Linked DNA regions of Homo sapiens. The protein of the gene in region 1 purifies or fractionates together with the protein of each later gene. This does not show direct contact. Each region holds a gene or a part of one and is shown on either strand. Other genes may lie near its edges.

Evidence for each region. Proteins that work in one complex are often made in the same cells at the same time.
Region 2: the proteins of PPAT (region 1) and GART fractionate together in Homo sapiens (co-fractionation; 2 studies listed by BioGRID). This does not show direct contact.

What each region holds. Positions count from the first base shown.
Region 1 is NC_000004.12:56,432,598-56,440,297, forward strand, and holds the start of PPAT (amidophosphoribosyltransferase), read right to left. Parts: upstream 3,019-7,700; 5' UTR 2,881-3,018; coding exon 2,753-2,880; intron 2,348-2,752; exon of another isoform or gene 1,233-2,347; coding exon of another isoform or gene 1,119-1,232; intron 1-1,118. Other genes in the region: PAICS (bifunctional phosphoribosylaminoimidazole carboxylase/phosphoribosylaminoimidazole succinocarboxamide synthetase), read left to right, coding at 3,665-3,731. UniProt on the Homo sapiens protein: Catalyzes the formation of phosphoribosylamine from phosphoribosylpyrophosphate (PRPP) and glutamine.
Region 2 is NC_000021.9:33,518,118-33,525,147, forward strand, and holds part of GART (trifunctional purine biosynthetic protein adenosine-3), read right to left. Parts: intron 6,884-7,030; coding exon 6,652-6,883; coding exon of another isoform or gene 6,648-6,651; exon of another isoform or gene 5,892-6,647; intron 4,166-5,891; coding exon 4,071-4,165; intron 2,899-4,070; coding exon 2,789-2,898; intron 2,446-2,788; coding exon 2,247-2,445; intron 1-2,246. UniProt on the Homo sapiens protein: Trifunctional enzyme that catalyzes three distinct reactions as part of the 'de novo' inosine monophosphate biosynthetic pathway.

The DNA of each region.
Region 1 (7,700 bases):
ACACAGTGAAACCCCGTTTCTACTAAAAATACAAAAAATTAGCCGGGCGTGGTGGGGGGCGCCTGTAGTCCCAGCTACTCGGGAGGCTGAGGCAGGAGAATGGCGTGAACCCGGGAGGCGGAGCTTGCAGTGAGGGGAGACTGCGCCACTGAACTCCACCCCAGCCTGGGAGACAGCGAGACTCTGTCTCAAAAAAAAAAAAAAAATCAAGAAGATAATATATAAGAAATAAATTCCTTCATCAAAAAGGAAAAAAACACAATCAAACCTTTTTGCAGTTGTTTTAAAACTAACCAGTGAGTGAATGAGGGTGAGAAAGTGAAAACAGAGCTTTCTGCAACAGACCACCACTTCTCAGAGTACGATATATATATACATATATACATACACACACGTATTTTATATATATATATATAAAACTAAACTAAAAGAAAAAGTTCTTAGTTTTATTCTGGCCCTTATCTATCAGTTTCGAGCAGCAGATAATTGTATTTCCAAGACATAAGGGAGTGTCATTGTTCTTCCAAGCAGAATCAGTCCTCCCAAAGGATGAGCACTTTAGCTCATGTAAAATTTTGAATTGATTATGGGTGAGAACCAGCCCTCTTTGTGCACCTTAATGATTCTATGCCTACACAAGAGAAATGTTAAATTGTTTTTCAGTAATACATTTGTTCCTCAAAACCACATAATCACATCATTATTGCCCTTATCTGGTATTATTTAATCTTACAATTCTTTCACAGAAAAGCAACTATAGAAAACAGATATATGTAACCAGGAATCAAATGGTATTCATTAAAAAAAAAAAAAAAGAAAAAAAAAACCTATAACCATGAATACCAAGTATTTTCCTAAACTGGGTACTAAAACTCCAACCAGTGCTAACATGTAAGTTAAAAAAAAAAAAAAGCCTCTTTTTCTTCAGGCACACATTTAAAGGGAAGGAGAAAGGGGGATGAAAATTTCTTGAATAACTTTGGCAAAAAAAGTAAATATAGTGAAGTACAGTTCATACATATTTTCTACAGACCACCAGGCAACCCTAAAGACCTCTAGATTCTCCCTCACCCCCATGACAGAGTATCCAAAATAACAACTGTTTTTTTTTTTTTGAGACGGAGTCTCGCTCTGTCGCCCAGGCTGGAGTGCAGTGGCGTGATCTCTGCTCTCTGGAACCTAAGCCTCCCGGGTTCAAGCGATTCTCCTGCCTCAGCCTCCGGAGTAGCTAGGACTACAGGAGCGCATCACCACACCCAGCTAATTGTATTTTTAGCAGAGATGGGGTTTCACCATGTTGGCCAGGATGGTCTCGATCTCTTAACCTCGTGATCCGCCCGCCTCGGCCTCCCAAAGTGCTGGGATTACAGGCGTGAGCCACCGCGCCTGGCCATAGTTTCTAAGAATGTTACAAACTAATGTTGCTCACAACTACCACATAATCAAGAGTTTACTTTCTCCTTGGATTACGTAACTAATTTTCTCAATAAACTTTTTTTAAAAAAAACAAGAAATCTATTATGGTCAACCCACAATTATCCAAGATTGGAGCTACGCAAGTTAAAAATATTCTTTTTGATGCTTCCCACATTCTCAGCTCTTTAGTAAACAAGGAACACACAAAATGTGAAACTGAAATTGAAGTACCTGGGACAATGAAAACAGCAAAAAATACTTCTAATTTAAGTTTGGTGGAGGAAAAGCTAATCTTTTGGAATGCGTTTATACGTGTTGCACCCATTTTGCTGTTACGTGTTATTGCCAAGTTCCTTAACTGTAGTGTAAGTTGTTACCACTGTATTGCCTTATGGAAACTGTAATACTTTCAGTAAGAATATCAAACCCAGGTTTGTTTTTCTTATCCTAGTGTAATAATTTATATCAACTTCCAGTTAAGTCAGGTAGTAAGAAAAGGAAAGATCACCGAAGCAAAGTAATTTTTTTTAACTCGAAAGGATCTCCCAATTTTTCAAAATCAAGTGTATGGATCTTGGCATAGAGACACTACTCCCCTGTCCCCCTTTTGAAGAAGGGAGTTAATTTTTGTCATGTTATTACCAACGTTTTCATTCATTAGGCAAGACGTCTACCAATGAATCTTTTCCAGATGCACTGTTCCCTATGGTTGGCTTATTTCCATTTAATTTATGTGAGATCTACTACCAGTAGTCATTCTCAACATCAACTAGTCATCTTTCCCTGGGTCTGAAGTCTAGCATCCTCAAGTTCCCATAGCGATAACTACTTTCAAACCCATAATCTGCTCAATAGCTCTGCCCTTGCAAACAAAAGCTTGTGGTGGTTGGAGGCCCCGCGCGAAAACCTTTAGGTGTTGAAGGACCTGGACTGGCCGCCACGCCACACTAGCCTATTACAGGAGCAGCCACAGGCTCCGGGAGACTAGAACCCGCCTGCAGTCGGGGAGGAGCCCTGACCCAGCTAGACCAAGCAAACCGGCGGTTTACAAGCTGGCCAGCCTCTGGATGGGTGCACACACCGGGGGGCGGGGAGGGAGAGAGCCCCTAAAAGGCATAAGTGGCTGGGAGGGTGGGCAGGACAGGCTAAAGTTCATGGAAGCGAGGTGCCCCTCGTGCACGCCTAGGCAACCCGGTCGACGCCACAGGCAGGTACTGGCTTAGGTCGGAGAGGTCGGTCCTCCCGGGCCCTCGGGCGCTCATGAGAACGCCGACTGCGGGAAGCGGCTCCGAGAGATGGAGACGCACGCCCCCGCCACCCCCACCCTGTTGCTCACCGGTGCTGCAGCCCCACGAGTCCCAGAGTGATCACATGCGGTACATCCAGCTGCGTGGGCCACTCTCCTGAGGCGATGCACCCGAACACGCCACATTCCTCTCGGATCCCCAACTCCTCCAGCTCCATGTCGCCGCCGAAAGCACGTGGAAGGACCTGCCGCTGCGGCCAAGGTGTAAGCACCAACCAGCTGCCAGCTCGGCCCGTCGAGCTCAGAAGCTCGCGCTCGCGACAGGCTCTTCCTTCCCGAGGGTGGCCCCAGCTACTGCGGCGGCGCGCGCTGTCCCTAGGTGGCGTGGCCAGCTCAGCCCTGCTCCTCCCCCTCCGAGTCCACCAACGAGCGAGGGCGGAGGGGCGGTCCCGCGGCTGAGGGGCGGGGTCACGGATGCTGTAGGGTGGAGCTAGCCTTCCCCTAAGAGCTGCCTGGAAAGCTGTATTTGCTGCACGTGGAAATCTCCGTTATTTTCCAGCACCCAACAGTAGCGTAATGGGAGTAACGGACTTAACCTCATTTCTCTTTCAGAGCATTTAGCCTTCATATGCCCTTCCCTGCATGCTTCCCCCAGGCCGTCAAGACTTGGTACGCTCCAACTTCTGAGTCGCTCCCGCAGCCGAGAAGGGGCCGGGGTATGCGAGCTTCCGCAGAGTGGGGAGGGGCCGCCAGTGCGCGCCACTTTTCGCCTGTCCGGGCACTGCGCCAGCGCGGGGCGGCCCGGAGGCGGGGTCGCGTCTCTGCGCCTGCGCGGCGGGAAGCCAGTGGGGCGTTGTTTCGTCCGATATCCGCGTTTCAGTCTCCGCCCATACCCCTCCGGGTTAGGCGGCTGTAGCGGAGCTCGAAAAGAGTGGCGCAGGGTCGCGCGGCCCCGCCTCCTTCCCCGCCCAGCGAAGCTCTCTGACCACCCCTCTTTTCTAGAGTTCTGCCTCGCTTCCCGGCGCGGTCGCAGCCCTCAGCCCACTTAGGATAATGGCGACAGCTGAGGGTGAGTAACAGGGATCCGGGCCCTTCACGGTCTCCCTGACCCCCAGGCCGTGAGCTCGCGGCCACGTGCGAGCCGCGAAACTCTGTCCCGCCTCCCTGCAGCAGCGCCTCTAGGCAGCCGCGCGGGCGCACACGTGGCCCAGGCGCTCCCGGGCCTCCCCGAACTTTACTGCCTCGGGGATGGGGAGAAGGAGCAAAGTAGAGGAGAACGAGAAATGGCCAAGGGGTGGAAAGGTGCCTGGAAGTATTATTTATAATCAATAGCTATTGCAAAATACAAGCAAATCAGTCTTGATTCGTCAAAACCTGAGTCTTGCTTTGCCCGTTAGGTTAATGACCTTTCTAAGAAGGTTAATAATTGAAACTTTTGAAAGACCTGTCTAGAGGCCGGGCCTGGTGGCTCACGCCTGTAATCCCAGCACTTTGGGAGGCCAAGGCGGGCGGATCACCTGAGGTCAGTAGTACGAGACCAGCCTGGCCAACATGGCGAAACCCCGTCTCTTACTAAAAATACAAAAAATTAGCTGGACGTGGTGGCGCGCGCCTGTAATCCCCAGCTACTCAGGAGGCTGAGGTAGGAGAATCGCTTGAACCCGGAGGCGGAGGTTGCAGTGAGCCGAGATCGCGCCATTGCACTCCAGCCTGGGCGACAAAGCGAGACTCCGTCTCAAAAAAGAAAAAGAAAAACCTGTCTAGGGGGCGTGTGTGTAAGTAGTCTTTGATGCCATGGTGTGTGTGTGTGTGTGCACGCGCGCGTGAAGTAGTCTTTGATGCCACGATAGCTTGGGGTGTGTGTACGTGCGTGTGCGTGTTTAAGTAGTCTTTGATGTCATGGGTGTGTATGTGTGTGCGCGCGCGTGTTGAAGTAGTCTGATTCCATGATGGCTGGGGAGGGGGGCTGTTTTTAGGTAGTCTTTGATGCCATGATGGTGTGTGTGTGTGTGTGTGTGTGTGTGTGTGTGTGTGTGTGTTCGTTCCAGTAGTCTTTGATGCCACGATGGCTTTGAAGAACTCCAAAACCTTTAGGCAAAAAAGTTGCACTATCAGGAAAGATTGTTCTTGCTATTTATGCTGGAAAAAAACAAATGCTGGTTTTTTCCACACACCCAGTTGCTATATGTATAGTGAGGCAAATTGCTTTTGTGGCTGCTGGGTACATTCTTTTCCACATAGAAAGTAACTGAATTCAGATTTTAAAAAGCTGTAGACTCAGGCCGGGCGCTGTGGCTCACGCCTGTAATCCCCAGCACTTTGGGAGTCCCAGGCGGGCGGATCACGAGGTCAGGAGATCGAGATCATCCTGACCAACATGGTGAAACCCCGGCTCTACTAAAAATGCAAAAATTTGCTGGACGTGGTGGCGTATGCCTGTAATCCTAGCTACTCGGGAACCTGAGGCAGGAGAATCACTTGAACCGGGGAGTCAGAGGCTGCAGTGAGCCGGGATCGCGCCACTGCACTCCAGCCTGGCGACAGAGAGAGACTCTGTCTCAAAAAAAAAAAAAAAAAAAAAAAAAAGCTGTAGACTCAGCAAAAAAGATTCAGATGATATTGAGTATCAACTCCCTAGAATCAAGGCAAGGACCAGAATTTTTCTTGCAATCATGGTACCTGTACCTCTAAAATGGCAAATCTCTAAAATCTTTGCTCTTCCACTTCTTTCCATTTGTGTACCGTTGGCAGGTTGATTTTTCTTAAATGTCACTTTTATGGTCTCTAAAAGGCAAAAGTGGCAACAAAGGCAAAAATGGCATCTCTAGAGATGTTAAATCCAGTCTGTCCAGTCTGAAATCCCTTTTCATTCAAATCCTGAATACTGCTATCCCTTCTACCTCTTCAGCCCTAACTTTGATTTTTCTCTCCTGTGAATCCTTAGCTATGTTCCAGTCAGGTTAATTCACCAAAGTTTGTTTTTCATTATATACATTTTATTTATATTATTTTTCCCAGAACATTGCTGGCTAATGGAAATATAATGTAAATTTGTCTTCTATAAGCCACATTTTAAAAAGTAAAATAATAAAAAAAACTGGTGCAATGTGTTTATATATATATATATATATATATATATATATAAAAGGTTTTTTTTGTTGTTGTTTTTTGTTTGTTTTGCTTTGTTTTTGAAATGGAGTCTCGCTCTGTGTGGCCCAGGCTGGAGTGCAGTGGCAAGATCTCAGCTCACTGCACCCTCCACTTTCCAGGTTCAAGTGATTCTCCTGCCTCAGCCCCCCAAGTAGCTGGGATTACAGGCACACTCCACCACACCCGGCTAATTTTTTTTTGTATTTTTTAGTAGAGTCAGGGTTTTGCCATGTTGGCCAAGCTGGTCTCAAACTCCTGACCTCAAGTGATCTGCCTGTCTCAGCCTCCCAAAGTGCTGGGATTACAGGCGTGAGCCCATTTTAATATATTTTATTTAACCCTATATACACAAAATACATTTCAACATGGAGTCAAGATGAAAAATTCTTTAGATATTTTACAATTTTTTATATCGAATGCAGTATATATTTTAACAAATGACATTTCAACTTGTAATAGCCACATTTCTAGTGGCTGCCTTATTGGACAGCAGAGTCCTAGAATTTTCTTATCCTTTGTGTAAATTCTGTGCTTTCCCAGACTCTTAAATTTCAATTCCATGAATCATTTTCAGTCCTCATCAATCTTTCCAGAATTCATCTACAAATTTGTAGCAACCATTTTGGTACTTGCAGGGTATGTCACGTATGGTTGTTTCTTATGTTGTTTCTACCCATTAATTCAAATTCCTTCCCTCTTTAATGACTAAGTAATACAGATTCAACTAAATTAAGGGGAGGGGCATTAGATACAAACTTTGCCCGGGCTTACTGCATATTAATATATATAAATGTTAATTTCTTTATCTGATCTGGGCACTGTTTTTTTTGTTTTTGTTTTTTCTTGAGACGGAGTCTCCCTCTCTTGCCCAGGCTGGAGTGCAGTGGCGCCATCTCAGCTCACTGCAACCTCCGCCTTTCAGGTTCAAGCGATTTTCCTGCCTCAGCCTCCCAAGTAGCAAGGATTACAGGCGTGCACCAACACATCCGGCTAATTTTTGTAATTTTAGTAGAGACAGGATTTTACCATGTTGGTCAGCCTGGTCTTGAACTCCTAACCTCAAGTGATCCGCCCGCCTCGGCCTCCCAAAGTGCTGGGATTACAGGCATGAGCCACTGTTCCCGGCCCACTGTTCTTTACCCTTCCCTCTCTTTTATCCTCCATGATGAATTCTCAAAGCTACTATCTTAAATATCTTGCATCTTTGCCCACTACTCTTTCCTTAGACCAAGACATTTCTTTTTCTTTTCCTTTTTTTTTATTGAGACAGGGTCTCACTCTATCACCCAGGCTTGAGTGAAATAGTGCAAATCTTGGCCCACTGCGGCCTCGACCTCCCCAAGTAGCTGAGACTACAGGCATGCACCACCATGCTGGGCTAATTTTTGTTTTTTTGGTAGAGATGGGATTTTGCCCTGTTGCCCAGGCTGGTCTTGAACTCCTGAGCTAAAGCAATCTGCCCTCCTTGTCTTCCTAAAGTGCTGAGATTACAGATGTGAGCCACTGCACCTGGCCAGACGTTTCTTGTTCAAGTTACTGCAACAGCATCCTAACTGGTCTTCCAAGCTCTAGTTTTTGTTCACTCACCCCTTCCTCCCTTCATTGTCCATACAGAAGCCGTAATGATCTTTCCAAATAGCGTTTTGCTTTAGCACTTAAAAGCCTTATAGCTCTTCTTGGGTTAAAGTCTAAACTCAATCAGCATGGCTTGTGAAACAAGAAGGATGTGTAGCAAAATGGAAGGGAAGTTTTCCAGGCCTAGGAAAGAAGAGATTGTCAGAAGCTAGGGGAAGATTGTATAAGAATTAAAGATGTTGGAGTTCTAGATAGGAAATAGACAAATAAGAGTTTGGAGCAGTAAGCCAGGGCTGTATCTTAAAGGGACTTT
Region 2 (7,030 bases), on another chromosome or scaffold:
GGTGGTTGAAAGGCAATTTTTGTTTGTTTCAAACTTTATTCCCAGGCTTCTTTAGCTTAATTAGCTACAAAGAATAAATTGTGGGCTGGGCATCGTGGCTCACGCCTGTAATCCCAGCACTTTGGGAGGCCGAGGCAGGTGGATCAGGTCAGGAGTTCGAGACTATCCCGGCCAACATGGCGAAACTCTGTCTCTACTAAAAACACAAAAATTAACCAGGTGTGGTGGCTTATGCCTGTAATCCCAGCTACTTGGGAGGATGAGGCAGGAGAATTGCTTGAACCTGGGAGGTGGGGGTTGCAGCGAGCCGAGATTGTGCCACTGCACTCCAGCCTGGGTCACAGAGCAAGACTCCATCTCAAAAAGAAAAAAAAAAAAGAAGAAATTGTGTATAAGCAAAAACTGAAAAGAGCTGCAGTGTCCAACAGGAATGGGGCTTAAAATATTAGAGATCTAAATTTTATCAGATCCATAAACAATTTCAGAAAGCAGTCATAATGTAAAATAGCAGCTCCTAGTTACTTCATATTTTTTCTTCTTCAGAAGTTGACTCAATTCAGTTTGCCTCATTCTTAATAGCCTCATCAAAACTCCTTACAAGATCTAGAACTTCATCACCATCCCCTCCATTAGCAAGCAGTGCTTTTCCATCCACAGACTATTTGGGCAGAGCTTCAGTCGGTCTCCTTAAACTAGTCAGATTGTCTGCACCAAGCTGGTTTAAGATGCTGGTAGCATTTCTATCAGCTGCGTTGTCTCAGCATGGCCTGTAATGGTGAAAGTGTTCACTGCCCCAGAGAAATGCTACCAGCATTTTAGGTTGTTAAAGTGGATCTCTGGTCTTCATTTGTAAACATACTCACCCCTTCAATACCAGAGATATTGTTTACCCTTAACTTCTTAAGGAGAACTGAAGTTTTTATCATCTGCTGTAGCTGAACCACCTTCTTTCTGTTTCTTTTCCATCATTACGCAATTGTGCCTGCAATTTGGTTGTTTCTTTCATCTTGTCAGCGTGGAAAAGGGTCATGTGGAGGACTAGGGTTGGTGCTCAAGGGGTCCTGGGTAGACCAGCTGAGATTAGATGCACACATGTGCAGATGCAAGATGGCACAATTTCTGGTTTAAATGGTCATATAAAAGAGGCAGTTTCTGGCCGGGCACGGTGGCTCATGCCTGTAATCCCAGCACTTTGGGAGGCCGAGGCAGGCAGATCACGAGATCAGGAGATTGAGACCATCCTGGCTAACACGGTGAAACCCCATCTCTACTGAAAAATAGAAAAAATTAGCCGGGTGTGGTGGCGGGCACCTGTAGTCCCAGCTACTCGGGAGGCTGAGGCAGGAGAATGGTGTGAACCCAGGAGGCAGAGCTTGCAGTGAGCCAAGATTGCGCCACTGCACTCCAGACTGCGTGACAGAGCAAGACTCTGTTTAAAAAAAAAAAAAAAAAAAGAGGCAGTGTCTTTGGGAGGCTGTGATGGGAAGATAGCTTGAGCCCAGCAATTCAAGACCAGCCTGGGCAACATGGCAAAACCCTATCTCTACAAAAAGTACAAAAATTAGCTGGGTTGGTGACACATGCCTGTAGTTCCCAACTACTTGGGAGGCTGAAGCAGGAGGATCCCTTGAACCCAGGAGGTCAAGGCTGCAGTGAGCTGTGATTGAACCACTGCACTCCAACCTGGGTGACAGAGAGAGATTCCCTTTTTTTTTTTTTTAAATTAAAAAAAGAGGTTATTTTGTTCCTTGATCAACCTACAGATTCATTTTGCTCAAACATTTCATGTATAAAGATACTTCTATAAAACTTGGGCGTATATTATTATTTATGTCACTCTATGGGAAAATTTGGCTTTAGTTAAGATCCGGAATGCCAGGAACCCATCTGCCTGTACCGTGGGGTCAATAAGGAGGAAATAACTCCTAGACCTGTTTGTTGAGGAGGCTACTGAGACTGATGGGGATGTTAAAAGGTGGCCAAAAATTGGGAAGAAAGATAAGGCCTGCCTGACAGTTTGGGAGTACGGGTCTAGAGGACAAACCCCTGAGGAGGGCTTTGAAGGTAGCAGGCTCTAAATTTAATTCAGGTAGTTTTACCTATATTTCATTTGTGCATATCACATATATGCATCTTGTGATATACAGTCTCTCTTGCTAGCTACATTGGCACTGATCACATTTTTACATAGGGCTAAAACACAAAAAGAAGAATGACATGTTATTGATTAAAATGGCTGATCATACCAAGGAGAGCACATCCAGCTTTTCCACAAGCTTTAGCAATTCCAGCAACAACAGCTTCAGTTACACTGAGGTCAAGTTTTCCACAGGAAAAGTAATCAAGGAAGAAGAGGGGCTCTGCTCCTTGTGCCAGAATATCATTAACACACATTGCTACCAAATCTTGACCAATGGTATCATGTTTATTGCATAGCTGGGCAATCTATGTAAGAACAATATAAACATCCACATTAGGGAATAAGTTCAAAATTGTATCTTATCCATTTGATTAGCTGCTCTTAACACCTAAAAACAAAAGAACACGAAATTCTGACAAGCTACTTGGTCTAAAAGCATCCCCTTTTATCCTCTAAAGTACCCTTCCATCCAAATATAATCTAAATAATAATTTGTTATTAGAAATGTGCAGATATTTTAGCCATTTTACATGGTTATTTGGCATGGTCCTTTTTAGCTCATATATGTCAAGAGAAGAAAAATACATATTTGATATAAATTTCCTCATCTTTCCTAAAAGGCCTTTATTCACAAAGGTGTCTGATTACCTTTAGTTTAGTTCCAACGCCATCTGTTCCAGAGGCCAGAAGGGGATCTTTGAAACCAGCTGCTTTTAAATCAAAAAGACCAGCAAAACCTCCAAGATCAACTTTACAGCCTGTTGGAGAGGAAATTAATTACTTGCTACATTTTAATAGATTAAACATGTAATTATTTAAATGTCTACTAGTTTAAAAAAACCAGTATATTTAGCGGCCTGTGAGATGTACTTCTGGAAGAAATAGATGATTGGAACAGCTGTTCTCAGAGATGACATAATCAAATCAACTGGGAGAATGTAATCATTTAATAGATTAACATGTAACATGTTAATAGGTTAAACATGTATATACATACCACTTGTTCATAAGAATGGCTGAAACAAGAGATGCCCTTCCTGAGTATGAGAGATTGCACCATGTGCTCAAAGAATTGATTAAGAAAGTAATTAAGGCTGGGCGTGGTGGCTCACCCCTGTAATCCCAGCACTTTGGGAGGCCGAGGCGGGTGGATCACAAGGTCAGGAGATCGAGACCATCCTGGTTAACACAGTGAAACCCCGTCTCTACTAAAAATACAAAAAAATTAGCTGGGCGTGGTGGCGGGCACCTGTAGTCCCAGCTACTCGGGAGGCTGAGGCAGGAGAATGGCGTGAATGCAGGAGGCAGAGCTTGCAGCTAGCCGAAATGGCACCACTGCACTCCAGCCTGGGCGACAGAGCCAGACTTTGTCTCAAAAAAAAAAAAAAAAAAAAAGGAAGTAATTAAATACTAAAGGACCAGCCAGACATGGTGGCTCATGCCTATAATCCCAGCACTTTGGGAGGCTGAGGTGGGCAGATTGCCTGAGGTCAGGAGTTCAAGACCAGCTTGGCCAACATGGTGAAATCATGTCTCTACAAAAATACAAAAATTAGCCAGGCATGATGGTGGGTGCCTATAATCCCAATTACTTGGGAGACTGAGGCAGGAGAATCGCTTGAAATCAGGATGCAGAGGTTGCAGTGAGCCGAGATGGTGCCATTGCACTCCAGCCTGGGCAAGACTCTTGTCTCAAAAAAAAAAAAAAAAAAAGTAAAGGAGCATACATATCCTTTTGAGTTTAACATGACAGATGAGAAATACTTTAATATTAAAGAAAAGAAAGCAGAAGACTGGGTTTGGCTTAAGCAGGGCAAAACTTACAGTAACCAAGCATTGCTTTGGAAAATATTCCTGTTAAATATAAAACCCAAATCCATTCACAATGTATATCAAAGTTAATGAATTAGCAAAGTATAGGATCACTGACCTGATCTGGAAGTGGCTTTTGCTAAAGGCTGAATTTTCTTGACCAGCATATTTCCAGCTGCGATATCTACTCCAGATTCCTTGTAAGTCAAACTCCTAAAGAATTAAAAACAAGTCATCACCTAAACGTCAGGGAAAATTATTTTAATCTTAAAATATTATTTAAAGCAGAAGATATCCCAAGTGATTTTCACATACCCTAAAGTGCTTAAATTTTTTTAAAGTCAGTGCCTGGGCCACATCTATACAGATTCTGATTTAACTGGTCTAGGGCAGGCTCTGGGAATTGAAATGAGTTTGAACCATCTCCCCAGTTGACTTGATTACATCATCCCTGAGAACCGCTATTCTAACTCAATCACCTATTTCTTCTACAAGTACTTCTCACAGGCTGCTAAATATACTGATTCTTTTAAATGATTTTTTATTAAGGTAGAATATACACAACATAAAATTCAGCATCTTAACCATTTTTAAGTGAACAGTTCAATAGTATTGAATACAATTATAATGCTGTGCACCCGGCACCATCATCCATCTCCATAATCCTTTATCTTGTAAAACTGAACGTCTGTCCCAGTTAAATAACTCCCCATTCCCCACTACCCCAGACCCTGGCAACCATCTGTTTAAAAGTAGATATACTGACATTTTGCTGCAACTTTTCTCAGTTCAATTTTGGTATGAACAAGAGAGGAATGCCTAATCAAGTCAAAAAAGTGAAAATTAGATTTGTAAAAACCGTACACAAGTATCCCTAAATAATTAAACTGAGTTCTTAATTTCAGTAATATATAACTGTATCTGTTTCCTAATAGCTGAGGACAGTAAACACTATGACAAAAGCAAAACCAGGTAAAGATACTCAGTGCATCATTTCCTTCTGTATAGGACCCACAAGTCGGAGCAGTACATTTAGAGATCAAATTTTTGAATGACACTGCAGATTTTGTAGTCTTGACTTGCAAAAATGAGAACTCTGGCCTGCTGGGATGCAGTGATACATGAAGAAATATGTGTTTTTATAGAAGTGTCTTTAAAAAAAGCATACAAAAACAAAAAACAAAAAAGCTGCCAGAATACAGTTGAGTGCATTGGCAGTTAACTCAAATAAAGCCAGCAGCTCTGGGTCACTCTCAGATAGAAAACAAAGACTGATGTTAAAAAACCTTTTCTCCAGTAGCAACTAACACTGTGGCATTTCCATTTTTTCATCTTTATAACTTAAATAATTCAGACTAGAATTGAGATTGCAGTCCCTTGAAATAGGTCATTTCAATGGAATCTAGTCATTTTTAAATGAAAAATAAATTTTTAGCCTGGTATTTTGATGTTCTTGATTCTTGGAAAATCTGTGTTTAAACTTTAAAAAAACCTGCCTCTTGGTAACAGTATAGCTTGAATTACGTTGGTAAAAAAATTTTGTCTTAAAATTTATTCATTATCCGTAAATGAACTTCACGAACAATAGCAAATGTGATATATTTTTAAGAAATCAGGCCGGGCACGGTGGCTCACGCCTGTAATCCCAGTACTTGGTGAGGCTGAGGCAGGCAGATCACCTGAGGTCAGGAGTTCGAGACCAGCCCGGCCAACATGGTGAAACCCCATGTCTACCAAAAACACAAAAATTAGCTGGGCACGGTGGCAGGCACCTGTAATCCCAGCTACTCAGGAGGCTGAGGAAGGGGAATCACTTGAACCCGGGAGGTGGAGGTTGCAGTGAGGCGAGATCATGCCACTGCACTCCAGCCTGGGCGACAAGAGCAAAATTCTGTCTCAAAAAAAAAAAAAAAAAAAAAAAGAAATCAAAACACCCACATTTCCAACTAAGACTTTATTGATTTTACAAGTCAACAGTTTGTACATACCAACAATGAATCAGTAAGAGGTCAAAAAATACATTTTAGTAATAGATACAAACGCAGTGATAAAATGAGACTGTCAAACTTTACAGTATAATCAAATCAAATTACAAAGTTAGATGACCAGTATTCTCATCTTCAGTTCTTTGATAAAACCATGAACTATGTTTCAAATACAACACTATGTGATAACGCAAGGAATAAAAATCAGTATCAGGCCAAGTGCAGCGGCTCATGCCTATAATCCCAGCATTTTGGGAGGCCAAAGCAGGAGGATCACTTGAGCCCAGGATTTCAGACTGGCCTTGGCAACATGGTGAAACCCCATCTCCACAAAAAATACAAAAAAATTAGCCAGGTGTGGTGGCCTGTGCCTGTAGTCCCAGCTATTTGGGAGGCTGAGGCATGAGAACTTGGGCGAGAGAGGAAGACCCTGTTAAAAAAATTAAAAATATAAAATAAAAAAAATAGAAAACAAATAAAAATCAGTACCACTGTGATTTTGCTAAACTTTCCAAACTTACGCTATCATGAAGTTTTTTCCATTTGAGTATTGCTATAACCAGTTTTGATTCAAACAAAATACAAACCAAGACTGTATCACTCCCACAGAGAGAAAAGAATACTGAATGACTTATAGGGTTAATGAAATGTTCTACATAGCCATTTAGGCCAGTTTCTGAAATGGCACTACAGCTAACTTGCTTAGAGTTTTACCTGGGCTGCTGGAGGAAAGCTATGGCACGAAAGCCGACGTCTTTCCTATAAATTGCTCCCTCAAACTTTATAGCAGCTAGTCCTTTCTTGGCTTCCTCAAGGGCTGATATGAGATTTTCCCGGATGGCTGTGACTGCAAGAACTCTACCCCCATGAGTTACTACTTTGCCATTTTTGAGGGCAGTGCCTGCATGGAACACCTCCAGTCCTAGAGCTTGAGCCTCAGGAAACCCTAGAAGAGAGCATATTTGACATATGATTTCAAATAGCAACAGTATTTCACACCGTGAAGTGATTTACGATTTCCACAAGTTTCTTTTTTTTTTTTTTTAACTTGGCTAGGTGCGGTGGCTCATGCTTATAATTCCAGCACTTTGGG